2 separate regions of the Homo sapiens genome follow, and region 2 is linked to region 1. The links come from fine-mapping of genetic effects on gene expression. A gene starts in region 1. The other region holds a variant in brackets. All regions are shown on one strand. Distances are between the middles of the regions.

Region 1 (2,903 bases):
TTTTTATTTTTAGTAGAGACAGGGTTTCACCGTGTTGGTCAGGCTGGTCTCAAACTCCTGACCTTGTTATCTGCCTGCCTCAGTCTCCCAAAGTCTTGGGATTACAGGTGTGAGCCACCGTGCCCAGCCTACACCCAGAACTATTTAACAAGATTTTTCAAAATATACTGACACGAACAAAGTTTGTTACTTTTTGTTGTTGTTGTTGTTGTTGTTTAGGCAGGGTCTGGCTCTGTTGCCCAGGCTGGAATGCAGTGGCGCAATCATGGCTCAGACCAGCCTTGACCTCCTGGGTTTAAGCGATCCTCCCACCTCAACCTCTTGAGTAGCTGGGACGACAGGTGTGCATCAGCATGCTTGGCTAGTTTTTAAACTGTTTTGTAGAGAAAAGAGTCTCTCTATGTTGCCCAGGCTGGTCTCAAACCCCTGGGCTCAAGTGATCCTCCACCTTGGCCTCCCAAAGTGCTGGGATTACACATGTGAGCCACTTCACCCAACAAAAATGTTACTTTTTAAGAAGGATTCAACTACATAATTTTAAGAGAAGACATGTATTTATGGTTCTAAAAGTAATGTTTGTCAAAAATGTTTTAAATAAAATTAAAAAGAAAAACAAACATTTTCATGAACAGTAATGTTTGTGAAAATTCAAAGGTACAGAAGAGAGTAAGTAGTCAAAGTTCTTTTTCCTCCTCTCTCATTTCTCACACGTGGGCTCAGTGGGGTGTCCCCCTCCTCAGCCACCAAACTGGCAGGGAGGTTTGGCATCAGTTTGGCCTGGGGAGTCCTCAGGATGACCCACAAGTCCACACAAATGAAGGCTTGCTTTTCTAACCGGCAGAGTTGGTGAGGAGAGAGCCGAACGCCAGGCTTTCCAGCTTACCCAAAGTAGAAGCAGCTTGTGCCCTTGGAAGGGAAGAAGCCAGCCTCGTCACCCAACTCCATCCAGTGCCATGATCCCTAAAGGGCCCTGCACAAACGCTCCTGGGTCCTATCACTGACAAAAACCTCTCACACAGGAAGGGTCTAATCATACACCTTCTTTCATTCAAATGCCTCTTTGTTGGGGTTCTGGGGAGAGGGGGCATTCAGGCTGCAGGGAGGGATGGTCTCTCTCTGGGTCTCTCTCTGAGGGTCTCAGCCTCCTGCCCCCACAAAGACCCCCCAGGTTTGGAGGGCCCAAGCAGAGCCGACCACATACACAGCCCTCCTGGTCCTGGGAGAGGTGCATTCTGGAAGGCAGGAAGGAGTCTGTTTCTAAATCCCTTTCTCAGTGCCATCCTCCATCAAGGTGGTCTCCAGATCTGACACGTGTTCTGCCTTCCCATAAAATCAGGCTCAGGAGATGGTGCTTCTTGGTTCTGGATATACCCCTCCCTGCCATCTACCTGCCTGGTAGCCTCTGTGCCTCCCGCCTCCAAGCCTGCCCTGACTTACTGGCAAAAGAGGGTGTCCTCGTCCAAGAGGGCCTCATGGGCACACGGGCTGTTCTCATCCTCGTCTCCAGTGACCACCATCATGAGACCCAGTAACAGTGCTGCTGTGACCAGCCTCATTGTCCAACCCATGGGCACCTGGAACAGAAAGAACTTTAGAGCGGCTGGATCCCCTGCAGGGGCCTTCCTGCCCACTACCTGTGCCCCCGACCCCAGGGGCCCACTTGGCAGGATAGAGACCTCTGGTTAAGCACAGGGAGAAGGACAGGCAGCTTCCAGGGCTCCGCAGCTAATCCAGTCCACCACCCGGACACAAGTACTTTGGGAGGACTGGGCCTCTTCCAAGTTGGACTCAATGTACGTTCCTGGCAGAGGCCCCTCCCCTGGCAGGACACAGCTTTGTTGTCACTCTTGTCCTGGCTGCCAGGGCAGAGAGCAGGCTGCAAAGTAGAAGTGCTTATATAAGCTCCTCGGTGCAGCTCCTTGTCCAGTCCCTGCTGTTGGCCCAGGGATGGTCAGCTGGCCAAAGGCCAGCCTGCTCCTTGGCTGTAAGGCAAGCCCTGGGAAGCTGGTGACCCCAGGCTCAGGGCTAGGAGTTGGGCTGTGCCCCTCAGACCGGCTCTGACTCTCCTGGCCCCCATTCTTCCACCACCTGTCTCCACAGCCTGTGAGCTTCCCCAAGGTGGAGGTGGTTGGACACAGTGACCTTGTGTAGGAGGGACTGCTGCAGGGGGTGGGGGTAGGTGCACCCCAGACCGAGGCCAGCTCCGAAGGGCCAGCTCCGAAGGGCCAGCTGAGGACAGAAGGGTGCGTCTGGGTGCACCTTGCAGCTGTGCTGCACTCAGCACTCTCCCAAAATAATCGTATCTGGAGAAGGAGGTCTGGGGAGCTGCTTGGGGCTCAGAAAGGGGTGGCCTGCCCCAGCAGTGCACTGGGAGGAAGGGGAGCCGGGGACTGTCGCCTGCATTCCCTTGGGGAACAGTCCTGCCACCAGGTGCATGTGGGACTCTGGTTTGAGCCTGAGTGGGCAGGGAGAAGAATAAAGGCGGCTTGCAACAGGCTTTCCAATAGCTCTGCTCTCTGCTTCTCAGAGGCGGGGGTGGGAGAGACGTGCCAGCAACTCAGGACTCCTGGCTTCTGCTCTGAGCTCTCTCTGGATGCTGGGAGGCCACTGTGTCTCCCTAGAATGCACCACTTTTCCTTTTCACAAACAAGTAAAATAATTCCTGTCACCGTGGTGCCTTGCTAAGGAATATGAGATCATCGCTGTAAAGTACACGCAGCTAGACCTTTAGAGAAACTACTTTCAGCATAGTCTGCTTTCTGGCTCAATTCCTGCCTCCAGGATCCCAACCTGTAGCAAAAAGCCCCCCTTAGGGGCTACATATTAAACACATTTCTCAATCATTAGGTTCTCTGAAGTACAACCAGGACTCCCCCTTGCCCCAACCAGAAAACATATTCCCA
Region 2 (2,903 bases), 180 kb before region 1:
TCTGGAGGAGGCTGCATAGACTCTCTGCCAGCTACTGGTGCTTGGTTGGGGCAGGCGGTGAAGGGCTGTGTGCTGGGGAGCCAATGCTCTCTTATGCCAGACTCCAGTGCCCAGGCCTCTTATGCCAGCCTCCTGTCCCCAAGAAGCCCCAGGCCCTTATCAGTGCTTCCTTGGGCTACCTGACCTCCCCTTGGGCTGCCCAGCTGCTGGGGCTGGGGAGTGAGCAAGGGCAGTGAGAGTGAGGCCTGCCTGAGAGTGGAGGCTACTGACCTCCTGGGCAGGACCTCCTTCCCAGAAGCAGAAGCAGAGCTCCCTTTGGGGGAGAAACCCCCTCAGTTTCTACTGTAATAAAGAAGGGGCCTGAGCTCTTGCTGGAGCCTCTAATGACGGGGTTGAGGTGTAATGAATATCTGTGTACTCATAAAACAGGCTAATGACGGCCCTCGGCCCTCATTTTATGGACCCGTTTCATCCTTACTTGTTCCCAAACCAGAAGGGACCATCCTGGGGGCTGAGCCAGGAGCCTGATGGCAGCCCCAGACCACAGCTGTTTGGAGTGGGGGCTAAATGGTTCCTGAGCCTGAAGCCCCTCCGGAGCTGCCTTTTCCTCCTCCATCCCTTATCTGGTTGAGACAAAGTGAGGAATTTAGGTCAATGGCTGACAACAACCAGCCTTAGGAAATGGGCAGGGGACAGGGAGGGAGGAAGTGCATCCACCCTGATTCTTAAGAGTGTCAACACTTGTCACACATGGAGGCCAGAAAGAGCATTCAGCACCTGCCGGCAGCACCACGCCCCTTTCCTCTGCCCAGGTACTGATAGGAGCTCCCTGAATCATCCCAGTTGCAATTCCAACACCTGAGCAGAACTAGACTCCGTGGAGGGTGGGGCTGGCCCGCTGAATCACCAGTAACACCTGTGTTTTGCTTGTGAGGTCTCCCTGCTCACTCGGGGACCAGCCAAGCCTGACCCTGTTTGGCTTCTCGGAGCTTGGTGAGATCACAGCCTGGGGGTTGTGGCTGCAGGCCAGTGTGACCTGCTGTGCAGGGAGTATTTTTAAAGAGATACTTGCCCTGTGTTCCCAGGATCAGCTCCCTGAGAGACTCAAGTTGTTCTTTGAATTCTGCCTCCCTCTCCCAATTTGATTGTAGACATTGGTCAGGGGAACATAAAATCACTTGGGATAAAGTGTGTAGTGGAAATTAACATGCAATCTTCTTGCCATAGACAAGCCCCTGGGGGATGCCCAGGGAGTCTTGGTGACTGGTAGCACCTGAGGGAGGTGGGATGAGCAGAATCAGACTCCCTAATTCCCTTGAGGATGCAGAGATAGACTCACCTGTTTTCTCCTGAGTTCTAGAACTGCCTAACTGTGGTCTTCCGGTCAGAGCCTGGA[C/G]AGGAGCCACAGGCCACCATGACAGGGTCTGCCGGTGGAAAAAGACTCATGTATGAGTCAGCCTGCTGCCTCGGTTCCCAGCCAGATGCGGGCCCAGCCCTGCCTCCAGGCCATCTGCCGAAAATTGGGGTCAGTGGAGGGCAGAGGAGCCCACGCATGCAGGTTCCTCGTGCCCCTAACCAAGCTCCCCTTTTCATGTCCTCTCTTCTTGCAGACATCGCCTTCTTACAATGCAGAACAGACGATGCACTGTCTCAGGTCACGCTTAGCCTCCTACGGGGGCACGACAGAAGAAGAGGAACATTTAGAGAGGCACAGCTCCTACATCCTTGGATGGGGAGAGTGGGGAGCAAACAGGCCAGGTGAGTCACTTGGGGGTTGGGCCATGGTTGTTAGACAGTGACAGCAGTCCTGGACCCGTATCCAGCACTCTCCACTCTAGGGGTTTCAGGCCCTTGTGCACTGCTGTATCACTTAATCCTCCTTCACCAGGAGGCAGAGAGGGTAGCGTTTGCAGATGGGGACACAAGCTCTGGAGAGGTTAATGACTTGCCGGAGATGGGAGTTCCAATCGGCAGCAGATCAGCAAATGGAATGCGGGTGTCCTGGCCCGTGATCTAAGTCTCCTGATTCATAGTCTAATGTTCTTTTGTCTACACCTCAGAACAAAGAGGGGCTGTGTTCAGAAAATTGATTCTGAAGGGAAGGGAATATTTTTTTCCCTTTGCTGGAATTTCTCTGGAGACTTCGGACTTGCTCAAGTTGGATGGAAAAGCCCGTCTAGATCTTCCCAGCTCTCTCCTGGGTTATGCCCGGGCCTGGGGGCAGAAAGCTTTTGAGACAGGGACAGGCCACATTCTCCAGTGCCCTCTCGACTTAGGGGACCCTGTGCACTGTGGTGGGGAGGTGTCACTGAGAGTGGTGTGATGAGTCACCATGTCCCCAGCCTTGGGTCCCGCAGAGGATTGGGGGAGTGAGCCCTGCAGGGATGTGGGGTAGCCCTGGTGATTCAGGGCAGGGGCAGAGGCTGGGGCCCCATGGCTAAAAGTTTCACGGATCCCAGGCTGAGACCTCCAGAGCCCCTGTCTAGCTCAACTGAGAAGAGTTGATGAAGTTCCTTGTGAGCTTGGCTCATGGATGATCTCAGTCTCAAGTGTACTACTCTGATTCTCTTTATCTTTCCAATCCAGTTCACACTTCTTTCCTCTGTGAAGCCTTCCTTCTCCCAGCATTCCCTCCCCTCACCCTACTGTGTTGTGGCCACCACTCTGCCTGGGACTACAGCCATTTGTCCTTCTGCCTCTCCTCTGCCTGAGAGCAAGGTGAGAGGATCCCGTTCCTGTTCTCCATCTCCTGCCCGTAACACAGGAGGAAGACACACAGGATGTATTTGGGGAACAAGGGGAGGAACTCACATCCCGAGAGCCTGCCTTACCCATGAGCTCTCCCTCTGCCACAACAGCCCGCGAGGCAGGAAACTGAGGCTCAGGGAGGCAGCGCCTTGTCT

Evidence for each region. PIP is the estimated chance that this variant, and not a neighbour inherited with it, causes the effect. A credible set is the group of variants that fine-mapping cannot tell apart.
Region 2: its variant is the best candidate, but not a certain one, in a credible set for the expression of PEBP4 in lung (TOPMed, PIP 0.52).

What each region holds. Positions count from the first base shown.
Region 1 is chr8:22,926,147-22,929,049 of GRCh38, forward strand. It overlaps PEBP4 (phosphatidylethanolamine binding protein 4), which reads right to left and starts at 1,768. Exons shown (of 7, transcript NM_144962.3): 1 at 1,677-1,768; 2 at 1,438-1,574. The coding sequence starts at 1,568.
Region 2 is chr8:22,742,984-22,745,886 of GRCh38, forward strand. All of the region lies in intron 4 of PEBP4 (phosphatidylethanolamine binding protein 4), which reads right to left. LOC124901908 (a long non-coding RNA gene) reads left to right here. Exons shown (of 3, transcript XR_007060855.1): 2 at 1,611-1,758. Among named protein-coding and RNA genes, the nearest start is that of EGR3, 51 kb to the left of the region's middle. RefSeq lists a silencer at 901-960 and enhancers at 1,011-2,210, 1,249-2,056. The variant C/G (reference allele first, on the strand shown) is at 1,397.